Homo sapiens: one gene and its partner. The gene in region 1 interacts genetically with each later gene. Each region holds a gene or a part of one and is shown in the gene's direction. Other genes may lie near its edges. The genes, in order: PRKCZ and TFF1.

The links.
Region 2: of PRKCZ (region 1) and TFF1, changing one enhances a phenotype caused by changing the other (phenotypic enhancement), as found in Homo sapiens cells (one study listed by BioGRID).

Annotation. Positions count from the first base shown.
Region 1 is NC_000001.11:2,143,883-2,152,607, forward strand, and holds part of PRKCZ (protein kinase C zeta type), read left to right. Parts: intron 1-327; coding exon 328-459; intron 460-1,504; exon of another isoform or gene 1,505-1,629; intron 1,630-2,144; coding exon 2,145-2,226; exon of another isoform or gene 2,227-2,423; intron 2,424-4,989; coding exon 4,990-5,042; intron 5,043-6,907; coding exon 6,908-7,096; intron 7,097-8,725. UniProt on the Homo sapiens protein: Calcium- and diacylglycerol-independent serine/threonine-protein kinase that functions in phosphatidylinositol 3-kinase (PI3K) pathway and mitogen-activated protein (MAP) kinase cascade, and is involved in NF-kappa-B activation, mitogenic signaling, cell proliferation, cell polarity, inflammatory response and maintenance of long-term potentiation (LTP).
Region 2 is NC_000021.9:42,362,815-42,371,472, reverse strand, and holds the start of TFF1 (trefoil factor 1 precursor), read left to right. Parts: upstream 1-4,937; 5' UTR 4,938-4,977; coding exon 4,978-5,062; intron 5,063-6,360; exon of another isoform or gene 6,361-8,065; coding exon 8,066-8,218; exon of another isoform or gene 8,219-8,243; intron 8,244-8,658. UniProt on the Homo sapiens protein: Stabilizer of the mucous gel overlying the gastrointestinal mucosa that provides a physical barrier against various noxious agents. May inhibit the growth of calcium oxalate crystals in urine.

The DNA of each region.
Region 1 (8,725 bases):
GCCCCCCAGCCCCTGCAAGCCACGGGGCCTTGCCTGAAGCAGCACCTCGTCACCCCTGCCCGATGGCACCTCCCCTGTGTCCCCTCATGCAGAGCAGGGTTCCAGGCCTCTCCTTGGGGCCACTGGTTCCCCCAACCTTGGGATAGACCCAAGAGGAGGCTCTCAAGCTTGGGCAAGCCTGGCGCCCGGAAGGGACAAGGTGCCGGGGCCACCTGTTGCCCGGCTCAGTGTCCTCTTTTGAGAAGGTATAGGTGTGGAAGGCCCTGCCTGTCCTCTCCGCTGGCCCCTCAGTGTGGCCTGGGCCTGACGCTCTGTTCCCACCTGCAGAGAGCGTACTGCGGTCAGTGCAGCGAGAGGATATGGGGCCTCGCGAGGCAAGGCTACAGGTGCATCAACTGCAAACTGCTGGTCCATAAGCGCTGCCACGGCCTCGTCCCGCTGACCTGCAGGAAGCATATGGTGAGTGGCAGGGCTGGGGAGGCCCGGGGGGCACGGGCGGGGTCGGGGCGTGGCAGCCAGCCCATTGTCCAAGCAGACCTTGGTGACCCTGGGTTCTTCAAGAGGGGCCGTGGTGCCGTCCTAGCTCTGGGCTGCAGCGTGAGACTCAGGCGGCAGTCTTGGATAGGACCCATCTTCCTGAGCCCCCACAAGCCCCCGGCACACTCTGCTCATTGGGGCATGAGGCTCAGGCAGCAGGCTCAGGTAGGACGTGGTACGCTCTGCTCAGTGGGTCGGAGGTAAGGTTCATTCATACCCCAGTCTTGAACCAGCTCTTAAGGACTGTGGAGGTGAAAGCCAGGTCTGACCTAGTAGCATTGGGCACGCTGAGGCTCCGAACATCTGGAGCCTCTCCCTGGCATCCCCCCTGGGAAGCCATGCCCAGCCTGTGATGAGGGCGGCACCTTCCCTCCGCCATCCCCGAGTGCTTGGACTTGAAGCATCCAGGCCTTTGGGGGCCTTATTGACTTTTGCTTATTGAAGGCTGCCTCTGGCATTTCCGTGTGGCCCCCTGCATCCCACTGAACCACGGGGGTGAGGCCTGGACTGAACATTCAACTCCCTGGGCCCTGCTGCAGCGTGCAGTGGGTGTGTCTGGGGAGGGTGGCTTGTCTGCATCTTGCTGTGGCATGGGAGGAAAGGCGCCTGTGGCAGTGACGTGCCCTCTCCTCTGTTACGGGATAAAGACAGAGTCTGGATCAGGGTGTCACCCCAGGATCACCAGCCACAGGGATGGGGGACCACGCAGGCTGGTGCATGCGTTGGCACAGTCCTTCCAGAGGTCCTTCAGCTGCATCTGCCAAAAAGCCTGTAATGCCCTTTGACCTCATAGGTCCACTTTAGCGTAAGCAAATGAGACCGGCCCCAGAAATGTGGTCAGCTAGAGGCGGAGGGAGGCCAGAGCCTGCCACCCAGCTGACCACCAGTACTGGTGGCTCCATTATGACATATCTGCAGGCGGAACCCAGAGGCCCTTAGAATGGCCCCCTGATGCTTGGTTACTGACAGGATGCAGCTTTGGGACAGGGGAGATGACCAAGCATTGTGCAAAATATCCCGTTGTATAAAGCACTTGGTGGAAAGGTCATGGCCTGCAGTACCGAGTGGCCACCTCCGTCTGCAGAATCATAGGTAATGTTTATGTTCTTTATCTAATTCAGTAAAATAGCATAACAATTAGATTTTTATATACTATATTACAGTATACCCATTGTAATGTGTAAATATGTAAATCATAAATAGTCTTGAAGTGGCCAGGTGCAGAGGCTCACACCTGTAATCCCAACACTTTGGGAGGCCAAGGTGGGAAGATCACTTGAGGCCAGGAGTTCAAGACCAGCCTGAGCAATATGGTGAGACCCCATCTCTACAAAAAAAATACAAAAATTAGCCAGGCATGGTGGTGCGCACCTGTAGTGCCCGCTGCTCTGGAAGCTGAGGCGGGAGGATTGCTCGAGCTCAGGAGGTTGAAGCTGCAGTGAGCCGTGATCGCGCCACTGCTCTCCAGCCTGGATGATGACAGACTGTGACCCTGTCTGTAAAAAAAAGTTCTTAATTTTAAAAAGTCACAAAGTGTTTACAGAAGCTACATTGTAACACCTGCTCTAGCACTTGGTCATGCTGCCATCTCTGTGTCTCTCCGGCAGGATTCTGTCATGCCTTCCCAAGAGCCTCCAGTAGACGACAAGAACGAGGACGCCGACCTTCCTTCCGAGGAGACAGATGGAAGTAGGCGCTGCTTTCTTCCGGCCGGGTAGAGCCTGGGCATCACCTCACCCTGCTCACCTCTGCCTTCTAGCCACGAGTCCTTTCTCAGTCCCATCTGCTCTGCAGGGGTCATTGTCTTCAAGCCTGGCCACCCTTCCCTGGGGCTGGGGATGAGGCTCTCCAGGGCCTCCTCTCAATCCCCGGCAGAGATGAGCAGGGTGAGCTGGCCCTCCCTGGAGGCTGCTGGGCAGGGATGCCTCCGTGAAGTGCTGTTGTGGTTGCCCAGGGGTGCAGAGCCTCTTCCTCTAACCAGCTCCGGGAGTTCTCGAAGGCACTTAGTGCAGCAGCCACCATGGCCGGGCACCTCCCACAATCTGGCTGCTGCACAGAGCTGAGCCCTATCTGGGGAAAGCCTGGCGAGGTGGCTGCTGCACACACAGCGTGGCAGTGGCATGGTCCTTGGATTTTTGTGAGGTTTTGTTTGTTGTGGGGAAGGACTTGTTTTATTGCTAAGAAGCATTCAGAGAGAGATCTCAAACACCAGTTGGACTTACAGCCCAGGTTTGAGCCTCCACACCTGCACCTCTGCACGGGGGTGTGAGAGCCTCACTTTCACTTGATGCATGTGAGTTCTGTCTCATTGGGAGACCACAGAACATAAAGCACTTATGAGACCACAGAACATAAAGCACTTAGTTCACACAGTGCCTCACGCAAAAGAGATGCCTCACAAACAACTGCCTGCCCACCTGCTCCTCCACCCACCTATCCTCTATACAGATATTCATCCGTACATCATCCATTCACCCACCTAGCCAACCAACCAGCCCTCATCCAGCCAACCAGCCATCCTCCACCCGCCCATTCTCCATCCATCCACCACCTATCCATCTATCCACGATCCATCCATCTCGTCATCCAGCCAGCCAGCCAGCCATCCTCCACCCACCCATCCTCCAGCTATCTTCCATTCGTTCATCTGTTGTCCACTGACCTCTCCATCTATCCATGTATCTATTGTCCACTGACCTCTCCATCTATCCATCTATTGTCCACTGACCTCTCCGTCTATCCGTCTATTGTCCACTGACCTCTCCATCCAACCGTCTATTGTCCACTGACCTCTCCATCTATCCATCCATCTTTTGTCCACTGACGTCTCCATCTATCCATCTGTCTGTTGTCCACTGACCTCTCCACCCATCTATCTGTTGTCCACTGACCTCTCCATCTTTCCATCTGTTGTCCACTGACCTCTCCATCTATCCATCTATTGTCCACTGACCTCTCTATCTATCCATCTATTGTTCACTGACCTCTCCTTCCATCTATCTGTTGTCCACTGACCTCTCCATCTATCCATCTATCTTGTCCACTGACGTCTCCATCTATCCACACATCTGTTGTCCACTGACGTCTCCATCTGTTCATCTATCTGTTGTCCACTGACCTCTCCACCCATCTGTCTGTTGTCCACTGACCTCTCCATCTTTCCGTCTATTGTCCACTGACCTTTCCATCTATCCAGCTATTGTCCACTGACCTCTCCATCTATCCATCCATCTATTGTCCACTGACGTCTCCATCTGTCCATCTATCTGTTGTCCACTGACCTGTCCACCCATCTGTCTGTTGTCCACTGACCTCTCCATCTATCCATCCACTGTCCACTGACCTCTCCATCTATCCATCCATTGTCCACTGACCTCTCCATCTATCCATCCATCTATTGTCCACTGACGTCTCCATCTGTCCATCTATCTGTTGTCCACTGACCTGTCCACCCATCTGTCTGTAGTCCACTGACCTCTCCATCTTTCCGTCTGTTGTCCACTGACCTCTCCGTCTATCCATCTATCTATTGTCCACTGACCTCTCCATCTATCCATCTATTGTCCACTGACCTCTCCATCTATCCATCCATCTATTGTCCACTGACCTCTCCATCTATCCATCCACTGTCCACTGACCTCTCCATCTATCCATCCATCTATTGTCTACTGACCTCTCCATCTATCCATCCATCTATTGTCCACTGACGTCTCCATCTATCCATCTGTCTGTTGTCCACTGACCTGTCCACCCATCTGTCTGTTGTCCACTGACCTCTCCATCTTTCCGTCTGTTGTCCACTGACCTCTCCGTCTATCCATCTATCTGTTGTCCACTGACCTCTCCATCTATCCATCTATTGTCCACTGACCTCTCCATCTATCCATCCATCTATTGTCCACTGACCTCTCCATCTGTCCATCCACTGTCCACTGACCTCTCCATCTATCCACCTATTGTCCACTGACCTCTCCGTCTATCCATCCATCTATTGTCCACTAACCTCTCCATCTATCCATCCATCTATTGTCCACTGACCTCTCCATCTATCCATCCATTGTGCACTGACCTCTCCATCTATCCGTCTTCTATCCAGGCCTCCATTCATCCCCCATCTAGTCATCCTCCATCCATCCACCAGACATCCACTCCTGCCCCTACCCACCCATTCACTAGACACCAAAATCCGGTGACGAATTATTTGCAGATGGACCCCTGGGGACGTATGTCACGAATGTACATCCCCAGGTCCCATGGTCAGAGTCGGCAGGTGTGAGTGGGGCCCAGGAAACTGCATTTTCAGAAGACTCTAAATTAGAATCAGACATGGCTGCTGTGTGGATTCACCCTTCACCGTCACCCTGCAGAGGAGCAAGGTCCACAGGGTCGCTGTGTTCCCAGTGCGTTCCTGACCACACCGTAACGCCCCTTCCTTCCTCCCTCTCTCACCAGTTGCTTACATTTCCTCATCCCGGAAGCATGACAGCATTAAAGACGACTCGGAGGTGAGTGTGTGGAGCAGCTCGCTGCCATTTCCGACGTCCTCTGGAAAGTCTGTGAGCCTGTCTCTGGGGTAGTCACGGAAATCTAGATGTGAAATAGACATGGTCCGGGGTGTTGCTAACTAATCTTCACGGGTGTGGATGTCTAGAAGGAAGTCCTTATTCTTGGGTCTTACTTCAGGCATGTCCTTGATGAATACCTGCAGGCAGCTGTCCCCGCAGGTGGTCTGGGGACCACACCCTGCGGGGGAAGCCGTGCCCCACATCCTCTCCATTCAGGTGGTACAGTGGCCCAGGGGCTGGCTTTTGAGCTGCAATTTTTATCAAGTTGTGTCTGCACCATGCCTTCCGAATTGTGTTGCCTCATTTGGCCATCCTGGCAAACCCTCTGAAGCCCTTTCATGTCCTTCCCCAACTTGAGCCAAGAGGCTCAACTGAGCCTCACGTCTGTGGCCAGCTCTGCACCATAAACCCTGAGAAGGGAACAGAAGAGCTTGCTGCGTTCTCAGCCTCTGCTCGTAAAACCCAGGGAAGGACTGCACTAGCGAAGCCCACTCCTTTCCAGAGCACCAACAAGTGTCACCCTCACAACTCGTGCTCCTTCCTGGCCATCCTGTGTCTGGAGGGAGGCCGGGGCACTTAGAAAGCAGAATCTGAGGCTGAGCACGGCGACTCACACCTCCAATCCCAGCATTTTGGGAGGCTGCGCACATCGCTTGAGTCCAGGAGCTCGAGAACAGCCTGGGCAGCATAGCGAGACCCTGTTCCTACAAAAATAAATACAAAATAATTAGCTGGGCATGGTGGCACGGGCCTGTGGTCCTAGCTGCTTGGGAGGCTGAGGTGGGAGGATCGCCTGAGCCTGGGAGGTGGAGGCTGCAGTGAGCTGAGATCGCACCACTGCACTCCAGCCTGGGCGACAGAGGAAGAGTCTGTCTCAAAAAAAGCAGAATCCGGCTGGGCGCGGTGGCTCACGCCTGTAATCCCAGCACTTTGGGAAGCTGAGGCGGGCAGATCACGAGGTCAGGAGATGGAGACCATCCTGGCTAACACGGTGAAACCCCGTCTCTACTAAAAATACAAAAAAAAAAAAAGCTGGGCGTGGTGGCGGGCGCCTGTAGTCCCAGCTACTGGGGAGGCTGAGGCAGGAGAATGGCGTGAACCCGGGAGGTGGAGCTTGTAGTGAGTCGAGATCGTGCCACTGCACTCCAGCCTGGGCGACAGAGCCAGACTCCGTCTCAAAAAAAAAAAAAAAAAAAAAGCAGAATCCATTTTGCCGCACAGAACAGCACCTCCCAAGGAACCGCCTCCTCCACCCCGACCTCCTTGCCAGGTGTAGCTTGCGGGAGGCAGAGGCTTCTGTTCTTCCTCGGAGCGCCTTTCTCCTGGGTATTTCTAATAATTATTTCTAATAATGTGTGCCTGCCGGTTTGGGAGCTCTTGGCAGGCATTAGCTGCATTCGCTTTACCTTCCTTCCCCTGAGGGAGGGCACTGATCAGGAAGGATGGGCCCAGGCCCTGGGCCACATGTCCCTGTGGCCACCTCTTCAGCCCCACTGATAGGGCTGAGGGCCTGGGGGTCCCTCCCACCTGCAGCTGTGACCAGAGCCATGGTCTGTGGAACGAACAGCTTCTAGCTTTCTAGCACCTTCCTCAGAAGCACACAGCCTTAAATTCTTACCTTTCATGCCCCAGTTTAGATGGGAGTTTGGGGGTGGGATATGTGGGACGCAGAACTGAGACTCGAATCATGAGGCCCTGGGCTCTGAGGAGCAGGTCTCTGTTGGGACCGCATGAGTGATGCGTGGTCCTCTGAGTCTCCCGGGAACCCCCCTCTCACTTTCTGGGGTCTTGTTCTCCCTCCCTAGGACCTTAAGCCAGTTATCGATGGGATGGATGGAATCAAAATCTCTCAGGGGCTTGGGCTGCAGGACTTTGACCTAATCAGAGTCATCGGGCGCGGGAGCTACGCCAAGGTTCTCCTGGTGCGGTTGAAGAAGAATGACCAAATTTACGCCATGAAAGTGGTGAAGAAAGAGCTGGTGCATGATGACGAGGTAGGTGCCGCTTCTCATGGGGCCCGGGGGCCCGGGAACGCGCTGCCCTGGGGCCTCCTCCGGGCTTTAGCGGAATTAATCCATGCACGAGAGACCTAGCCTCACGTTGACGGAGTTTGTGCAAAATCAATAGTCATGCATCGTGTAATGACCAGGATGTGTTCTGGAAAGTGCCTGGTTAGGTAATGGCACTGTTGTGTGAACATCACAGTGTGCACTCCACAAACCCAAACAGCACAGCCAACTCCACAGCCAAGATGCACAGTGCAGCTCCTGCTCCCAGGCTGCAAGCCCGTACGGCTGTTAGTGCACTGCACACTGCAGGCAGTGAGGGGACCACCACGAGAGCACTCACGTGTCTAAGCTTAGAAAAGGTGAAGATGGGTATCGTGGTCTCTGCAACCTTCTCATGTATGGCCAACCACTGATACGTTGCCTTCCAGCAGACTGCGGTTGAGTTTTAGGATGTCATCACCCTTGTTAGGAAATCTCTGGGGTTGAGCTGAACTGGACGGGTGATGGGGTGGGACAGGAAGCTGCCCAGAGGCACTGCCCTGCTCCGTCCTGCACAAGGCCCCAGCTTTGCAGTACATGCTGAGCTGCCGTGGCTCTGTGTAGCAGATCTTCCCACACCAGCTGTTTCTAGGGGAGAAGTTTGTTGATTATAGGATCAATGGTTTATTTGTTGAAATCTTTTTTTTTGGAAACGGTCTTACTCTGTCACCCAGACTGGAGTGGCTTGATCACAGCCCACTATAGCCTCAAAGTCCCCAGCTCAGGTGATCCTCCCACTTCAGCCTCTGGAGTGTTGGGACTACAGGCATGAGCCACCACCCCCAGCTGTATAATTTTTGTATTTTTTGTAGAGGCAGTGTCTCATTCTGTTACCCAGGCTGGAGGGCAGAGCATGATCACGGTTCACCTCCTGCAGCCTCCACCTCCTCCTGCAGCCTCCACCTCCTGCTAGGCTGAGGTGATCCTCTTGCCTCAGCCTCCAGAGGAACCAGGACTACAGGCATGCACCACCATGCCCAGCTATTTTTTGTGTTTTTTGTAGAGACGGGGTTCCACTATATTGCCCAGGCTGGTCTAGAATTCCTGCGCTCATGCACTCTGCCCGCCTCAGCCTGCTAGAGTGCTGGGATTACAGGCATGAGTCACTATGCCTGGCCTGTTTGTTGAAATCTTAATTCTGACTTCATAGACCTTTTTCTTTTAATTAAAGTAAAATACACATGACATAGAATTTGCCATTTTAAAGTGTACAGTTAGGGCCGGGCGCGGTGGCTCACACCTATAATCCCAGCACTTTGGGAGGCTGAGACAGGTGGATTACCTGAGGTCAGGAGTTCAAGACCAGCCTGAACAATATGGTGAAACCCCAACTCTACTAAAAATACAAAAATTAGCCAGGTGTGGTGGCGCACACCTCTAATCCCAGCTACTCAGAGGCTGAGACAGGAGAATCGCTTGAACCAGGGAGGCGGAGATTGCAGTGAGCCGAGATCACGCTACTGCACTCCAGTCTGGGCGACCAAATGAGACTCTGTCTTTAAAAAATAATAAAATATGCAAACAAAGTGTACAGTTAGGCGGCTTTTAGCATATTGAGATACAGAGTTGAGCAGC
Region 2 (8,658 bases), on another chromosome or scaffold:
GTGTGAGACCTGGATGGAGGGTCTCAGTGGTGGCAGTAGTGTGTGAGCAGTGGCCGGAGAGTGTGAGTGGTGGTCAGAGGGAGTGCACGGTGGCCAGAGAGCATAAGTGGTGACTGGATGGTATGAGCGGTGGCTGGACGGTGTGAGCCATGGCCGGAGGTTTTGAGTGGCACCCGAAGGGTGTGGCCGGAGGGAGTGAGCTCTGGCTGGAGGGAGTGGCCAGTGGCAGGAAGGTGTGAGCAATGGCCAGATGGTGTGAGGGGTGGTCAGAGGGAGTAAGCGGTGGCTTGAGGGAGTGAGTGGTGGCCAGAGGGTGTGAGTGGTGGCTGAAGGGTGTGGGCTGTGGCCGGAGGGAGTGAGCAGTGATCAGATATGGGACCTGGACGGAGGGTTTGAGCGGTGGCTGGAGGGTGTGGGCAGTGGCTGGAGGGTGTGGGTGGTGACTGGAGGGAATGAGCAGTGGCCACAGGATGTAAGACCTGAACGGAGGGTTGGAGTGGTGGCTGTAGTGTGTGAGCAGTGGCTGGAGGGTGTGAGTGGTCGTTGGAGGGAGTGATCCCTGACTGGAGGGACTGAGCAGTGACCGGAGGGTGTGATTGGTGGCCAGAAGGAGTTGGCGGTGGCTGGAGGGTGTGAGCGGTGTCCGGAGGGAGTGGATGGTGTCTGGAGGGTGTACCACCAAGGACGCCTTTCTGATCGTCCTGCGTCCATGCTCAGTCCTGGATCTCCTCTTCCCTTTCTGGGTGTGTGTGGCTCTGGAAGAAGCTGGCTAACCTGACGAGGTTACCGCCCTACTGTCACCATGGAAGCATAGCGCCTCAGCCACTCTCCCTGGAGGAGCCTGGCCTCACACTCCAATCATTCCCCTCTCCTTCTGGGTTAATTTGAGGAATGTGGTCCCGCTCCATGCTGTGGGTCTGTGCCTCAAGTTCCCTGGCCAGGAAAGTACCTGCCTCCTCCAATACCTGAGGACCCCAACCCCAGGGCCTCAGCTGGGTGTCCTTGTAAAGGGTCCCTGGGGTGGCAGTTGCTTTTTTGACCAGAGGCCTGGCAGGAAACGGGCTTCACCACAGCGGATCTGGGCAATGCGAGGAGAGTGAAGACTGTAAAAGTCTCCTTGCGGCTGGTAAACCCCCCAGGCTGGGGCAGGGGGGTGAGGGGTCTGCTCTGGGGCCTGGGGAAGATGGTGTGTGGAGAGGACGCCCACCTGGGCTGTGGCTGAGAGGGGGACGTGGCCTGTCCCAGGTGATCCCAGGAGGGATCCTGGAGGAGAGCCCGGATCCACTTCCTCCCAAACTCCTCCCTCCCTCCAGGGCCACCTACAGAACCCCCTCCTGCCAAGGCACAGGTCAGGGGCAGCGGGCAGGTGGGGAGCGTCAGGAGGAGACTGACTCCCCAACTGCGCGTCCCCCTTGTGGGGAATCTGGGCGGCTGCGGGGCCCCCCACTGAAAATGAGGGGCTCTCGCCAGACCGCAGGGAGGTCGGCTGGGCGCAGGAAACAAGCAATGCCTGCACAGCCACAGACGCCCCCACGGCCATAGATGCCTGCCGGAGAGGGTCTGAGGTGCGGAGTCTTCAGATGTCCTGTGGCCCAGCCACTGCGTCTTTCAGATAAGAAAACTAAGACCCAGAGCTGTGAAAATGCTGGCACAGGGTCCCCCACTGATGATGGACTGGCGCTTGCCTCTGCATTCTCTCCCTCGCCACACTGGAATTGTCTTCAACAAGTTTTTATGGATAAGGTTATGTATGGTGTGGTCTTGGGTTCCGCCCACTCTCACAGGGATAAAGCTCTTGTCCCGAGAAACGGAGAGTCCCGGGGGCAGCTCCAGCCGCTCCAACCCTAATGTGGGAGGCCAAACTCCGGCACTTGGTAGTTATCTCACAGCTCTCCCAAGGAGATAGGAGCTGGGCTTTCCAAGAAAGCAATTGCAAACATGTACAGAATGCTAGAACAACATCCGTGAATCTACGCTGCCCCTCATTAATGGATGCTAACCTTTTTACCTTATTTCCCTCAGATTTTCTTCAACAAAAGAAAACATTACGGAGACATCGAAGGCCCCTTTGCGCCCTACCCCGCCACCTTTTCCTGCTTCCTCCTTCCTAGACAGACCCATCATGCTGAAGTCAGTGTCTCGTTCCTGTCTACACTGTCATCATTTTGTTCATCTGGATGCAGTTCCAACAGTATATCACATTGTTTCACATAGTTTGGAAATCTACATTATAAATGATATCCTACTTTACAAACCATTTTAACGGATTTTTTCACTTCGCTTTGTTTTCAATATTTCTCATTATTTATTCATTTTCATCTTCTGAAAGATACTCACATACATACATATATAATATATGTAAAGTATAATACATGTATGCAATTAGTTCTCTATATTCATGGGTTCTACATCCATGGATTCCAGTAATGTCAGATCAAAACTGTTTTAAAATCCAGCTGGGCACAGTGGCTCACACTTGTAATCCCAGCACTTTGGGAGGCTGAGGCGGGTGCATCACCTGAGGTCAGGAGTTCGAGACCAGCCTGGCCAACATGGTGAAGCCCTGTCTCTACTAAAAACACAAAAATTAGCTGGGCGTGGTGGCACATGCCTGTAATCCCAGCTACTCAGGAGGCTGAGGCAGGAGAATCACTTAAACCTGGGAGGTGGAGGTTGCAGTAAGCTGAGATCATGCCACCGCACTCCAGCCTGGGCGACAGAGCAAGACTCTGTCTCAAAAAAAAAAAGTATTTTAAAATCTTATTTACAACATCTTAAAGATCAAAACTTGGGTGTGCCGCAAGTCAAGTACTATGTAGAATCTGCAGAATGAAATGAGGTGTAGGTATTGCATCAGGTATTATAACTAACCTAGAGATGGTTAAAGTGTAGGAGAGGATGCACGTGGTTTCTGCGCACTATGTCATTTTATACCAGGGACTTGAGCATTTGTGGATTTTGGCATCCCTGGGTGGGGGGTCCTGAAACCAGTCCCCCAGGGGTACTAAGGGACGACTGCATTGTATTTTAAGTTCATTTTCCCTTTCCCTGGTTAATGAATATTTATTTTGCTTTTCTTTCCCTCCTTTCCTTCCTTCCTTCTTTCCCTGTTTCCAGCTGTTACAAACAATGCTAAAAAGAATATCTTTGCCTGTGTTTTCTTCTGCCCAAGTATGAACATGTTTCTGGGATTAAGAGACCAGGCCTGGAAACAGAAGAATTTGCTGAGCTGTAAAATCTGTATGGCTTAAACCTCACCGAACACTGCCCACCTTTTCTCCAAATGATTGTGCAATTTACATCCCATTTCCAAGAGCCCCCATTTTGATCCGAGAAATTAGAGCAGCGAAAACCACCGTCACTATGAGCACCACCCTGGGCCTGGTGCCCCCGTCCTGTTTTCAATAAACTTAAGCTGACCACAGAGGACACCAGGCCTCGGCCCCTCCCTGGGTCCTGCGGTCAGGCCCCTCCTGGAGACCCTGGCCCAGGAGTGGAGACCCCGGTGCAGGAGTGGCAGCCCTGGAGGAGGGGCTGGGTCCTGGGATGGAGCGAAGAGGAACATGGCCGCCCCCATTCTGGCCCAGGCTCCCCTCCCAGAGGGGCTGCAGAAATGTACTGACTAGGTCACCCAAGAAAAGATAGTACCTTTGTTAGGCTAGCATGCATTTTCCTCAGGGCCTAATTTCTCACTGAAGAAGAAAAGATTTCTCCTGTTGTCCATTTCTTCATGCAGCTCTTCAACAGCTGTTTCTCGAATGCCAATCAAAGCCACTGTTCTAGGGTCTGGGGCCACCTCAAGGCACTAGGAGATGAGGACTTCTGCTCCCATGCGCCCTCCCGTCTGCTGCAGGGAGGAGTGCAATGAATAAATAACCAACATAATGTGTCAGTCACTTGTTTTATCCACCAGGAGGTAATAAGAGCTATGAAAGAGAAAGCTCCGAGCAGGGGAGGGGAGTGAGGCATGGTACAGGAGAGCAGGAGGCTGTCCTCTAAAATACAGGAGTCCAGGGGACCAACTGGGAAGGTGTGGGAGGGGGAGGGAGGGAGCCCCATAGACACAGGGGAGTGAACCACGTTCACTTTGTCAGTTTTTGATGGCAGCTCGTATATACTATTTTTTTCTCCCTCCTGCCCCCAGCCCCTCCCAGAAGGAGACTTAATCTGTCGCTCAGGCTGGAGTGCAGTAGGGTGATCTCGACTCACTGCAACCTCCGCCTCCCAGGTTCAAGTGATTCTCCTGACTTAACCTCCAGAGTAGCTAGGATTACAGGCACCCGCCACCATGCCTGGCTAATTTTTGTATTTTTTTTTTTTGTAGAGACGGGGTTTCGCCATGTTGGCCAGGCTAGTCTCAAACTCCTGACTTTAAGTGATCCGCCTGCTTTGGCCTCCCAAAGTGTTGGGATTACAGGCGTGAGCCACTGCGCCAGGCCTACAATTTCATTATTAAAACAATTCCACTGTAAAAGAATTAGCTTAGGCCTAGACGGAATGGGCTTCATGAGCTCCTTCCCTTCCCCCTGCAAGGTCACGGTGGCCACCCCGTGAGCCACTGTTGTCACGGCCAAGCCTTTTTCCGGCCATCTCTCACTATGAATCACTTCTGCAGTGAGTACAGTATTTACCCTGGCGGGAGGGCCTCTCAGATATGAGTAGGACCTGGATTAAGGTCAGGTTGGAGGAGACTCCCATGGGAAAGAGGGACTTTCTGAATCTCAGATCCCTCAGCCAAGATGACCTCACCACATGTCGTCTCTGTCTATCAGCAAATCCTTCCATGTAGCTTGACCATGTCTAGGAAACACCTTTGATAAAAATCAGTGGAGATTATTGTCTCAGAGGATCCCCGGGCCTCCTTAGGCAAATGTTATCTAACGCTCTTTAAGCAAACAGAGCCTGCCCTATAAAATCCGGGGCTCGGGCGGCCTCTCATCCCTGACTCGGGGTCGCCTTTGGAGCAGAGAGGAGGCAATGGCCACCATGGAGAACAAGGTGATCTGCGCCCTGGTCCTGGTGTCCATGCTGGCCCTCGGCACCCTGGCCGAGGCCCAGACAGGTAAGGCGTGCTTCTTCCTGCTCTGTGGGGCCACAGCCAGCTCTGGCAGCCTCCGCCAGGAGCCACTGTTTTACATACATATTTTTGAGCACCTGTTTTGTGCCAGGTGCTGTTCTAGGCCCTTAAAAGTATATCCAATTTACAGGATCGGCAAAAGCAGGTGGAGAGTAACTCAGGGTGGCAGGGCCCCCGGAGACCTTCGAGAAGTGCGACGAGGAGGGGGCTGCCTTCAGTCGGGGCTGTTTTCCTGTGTTAGGAAGACTATACAATCCTCCCAAGTGTCATGTTTCAAAGAGGAAGTGTTGGCGTGGGGTCTCAGAATAGTGCTTTTGACTGTTCATGCCAACATCTCCCCCAGGGGCAGACCCTCCCAAGGCCCATCCAGATAGGCCCAAATGCCGGTCCCAGTGATGGCCACCTGGGAGACCCTCTCCCACAGGCCCGAATGCCCGTCCCAGTGGTGGCCAACTGGGAGACCCTCTCCTACAGGTTCCTGGGCTCCCCTGGGATCCATGCTCTGGGAGTCAAAGCCACCTCTCTCATGAGTGCGTGGCTGGCAACCCATATTCCCTGGTGTTGTCAAGTGGATCGGTTGCCCTGGGTCCTTCTAGGGAGTGGAGGAGGAGGCCATTCTTGCTTCCTTGGGAAGTGTTTGCATCTCAACTCCTTTACCTGCAGAATGGATCAACGGTCTGCCCTAGGGCTGTCAGGAAATGCTGTGTGGCAGCATCTGCGACTTGCACTTTGCCAGCTGTGGGGAGCTGAATAACTTATTTGCCGTTATTAGGTACAGTTTCAAGGTGGGGGCAGGAGAAAGGGCTTTCTACGTTTCCAAAGCAAGGGTTTCCAGAGAGGCCTGAAGAGGGAGCGCCCAGTGGTGCTGTCCGTGCCCCCACTGCCCTCCAGCCACCTCTTGATCTCTGCTGTGGGGTACCGGGCCTGAGGGGTGGGCTTGGGCAGCGTAGAAGAGCAGCCAGCATTGGGCTGCAGTGGGAAGACCCCCAAGCCCATGGCAGGGAGCGGGGGAGCTTTGGAACCCGAGAGAGGAAGTGGCCTCGGTGTACAGAACGAACTGGGTGGGTCCCCGTGCTGGCCACCCCCAGGCCCATCTGCCTGCGCCCTTGCCCCCACCCCAGCCCCCAGCTCTGCCCCCTGTGCTGTGGGATCACAGAGGCCGTGGCAAACTCCCCTCCCCACCCCACACACCCTCTGGCTCAAGGCTCAGAGCGTCTTTGCGGGTCACTCAGGTCCATGATCCTGTTACAACTGAAATCTAGAAAATTGTGATTACAGTTTAGTGCATTCGTGTGTGGAAACCATTTCCATTTATTTCCATCATGCGACAAAGACAAAGCGGGTGGGCAAGACAGAGTCTGCCGGAGGCAGAGCACCGGGGCTGGAAATCTTCCTCCCTGAGGAGGAAACCCCCCCGACCCCCAGGATGATGATCCTCCCTCACCACGGGGCCTCTCTTGACCCCCACAGTGTCCCGGGGGTGGGCGATGATCACCTTCACGTCGCGATGGATCCAGACCCCAGGAGGGCAAGGTTCCCATGGAAGCTGCTGGGCAGCGGGAGCTGAACACGGATCCTTCCCAGCAAGCCAGGAACACTTTCTCCAAAGACATCTCGAGGCAGTCCCTGATAGCAAAGCAGACAAGAGAACAGCCCCTCTCGGCCTCCCCTGGGGCGCCCTCACCTGAGCCAGTGTGGCCAGACTGAGTTCCTCCCCTCCTATGCCCCAAGGCAGGGACAGGGACCGGAGGGTGCTCTGGGCTCCTCTTTCACCCCCTGCTGCAGGCTGTCAACCACCAGATCCTAATAGGTTGCTTTCTGAGACCTTTGATTCCGCGGAGCTCAGAGCCTGAAGCTCTGGTGTTAGAACCTCTTGCATAAGATCCTGCGGCAGCCCCCAGCCAGCCCCATCTGTCCACGTGTCTTCCTCCTCTAGATCCCTTTCCTCACTGCCCTGCTTCAAGCTGTTTCACAGCTTGTACCCTCTGTCGGCTCCTCCTAGACCACCCCACCCGGTCCTCTCACCTTACCTGCAATGGGTTTCCACCTCCTGAACACACCTGGGTCTCTGGAATGGCCTTTGCCCATGCGGCTCCATCTTCACCTGGTGAACCTCCTCCTGCAGGGAGCCCCCCTGCTTTGTTCAACCTGCTTGTCATTGGCCTCTCCGGGGAGTGCCCTACCCCCGTGGTTACCCTGGGCACCCTGGGACGATGGCCTTGCGTTGTCTCGCACATGTTCTTGCCTTTCTCCTCCATCAGATCCTTAGACTCTTTTTTTTTTTTTTTTGAGATGGAGTCTTGCTCTGTCACTCAGGCTGGAGTGCAATGGTGCGATCTTGGCTCACTACAACCTCTGCCTCCTGGGTTCAAGTGATTCTCCTGCCTCAGCCTCCCAAGTAGCTGGGATTACAGACGTGTGCCACAATGCCCGCCTAATTTTTTGTATTTTTAGTAGAGATGGGGCTTCACCATTTTGGTCAGGCTGGTCTTGAACTCCTGACCTCAAGTGATTCACCTCCTTCAGCCTCCCAAAGTGCTGGGATTACAGGCATGAGCCTGGGCCCAGATATTTAGACTCTTATTAATGACTTCTCTGGTTTTAATTTCTGGGTCTCTCTCACCTGGCACAGTGCCTGGCTTTTGCCATGCTAGCTCCCACTTCTCATGCACACAAATGGTGCTCAGTAAATATTTATGTATTGAGTAAAATTTAATAATCATTTGTTGAAATTAAAAAGTGAATAAATAAGTTACCTAGAAAGATGCAAAGTCCACAAACCTGGGGCACCTTGCATTTTCCCTGAGCGTAATGTTTGCACATCAGGATGTGAGGACCACGTCTCCCTCTCATGTCCTGAGGGTTTTATATCCGCCTCACTGGACAGTTGCTGATGTCATTGGAGAAGGAAGCTGGATGGGTGTGTGCATGATAACATCAAGGAATTCAGCCCACAACTTACTTTGCTTCTTACCTGTGCACTTTCAGAGACGTGTACAGTGGCCCCCCGTGAAAGACAGAATTGTGGTTTTCCTGGTGTCACGCCCTCCCAGTGTGCAAATAAGGGCTGCTGTTTCGACGACACCGTTCGTGGGGTCCCCTGGTGCTTCTATCCTAATACCATCGACGTCCCTCCAGAAGGTATGGCCTTTTTATACGATGGGTTCTGAAGATTTAGAATTAGTTAGAAAAGTCATTTAAGACTACAGAGGCTCTGATCAGCATCACCAGCTATGCCTTTACACAGAGTCACGGCCGCCAGTGGTGGTGCAATGGGGTAGCCTGAGTCAGGCTGCATTCAGGTCCAGGAATAGAAAGGCAGGGCTAAGGGACTTGGGAAGAAACCTGATTTCCCCCCGGCTTCTCTTCACATCTCTAACCAAAAGCCTGGGAAGAGCCACTGTTGGTAACGCTTTCTAGCTTGCCTAGGATAGAGGGGGAAGGCATGACGAAATCTGAAGACATTTCATGTATTCTTTTTTTTTTTTTTTTTTTGAAATGGAGTCTCGCTCCGTTGCCCCTGAGCTGGAGTGCAATGGTGCGATCTTGGCTCACTGCAATCTCTGCCTCCTGAGTTCAAC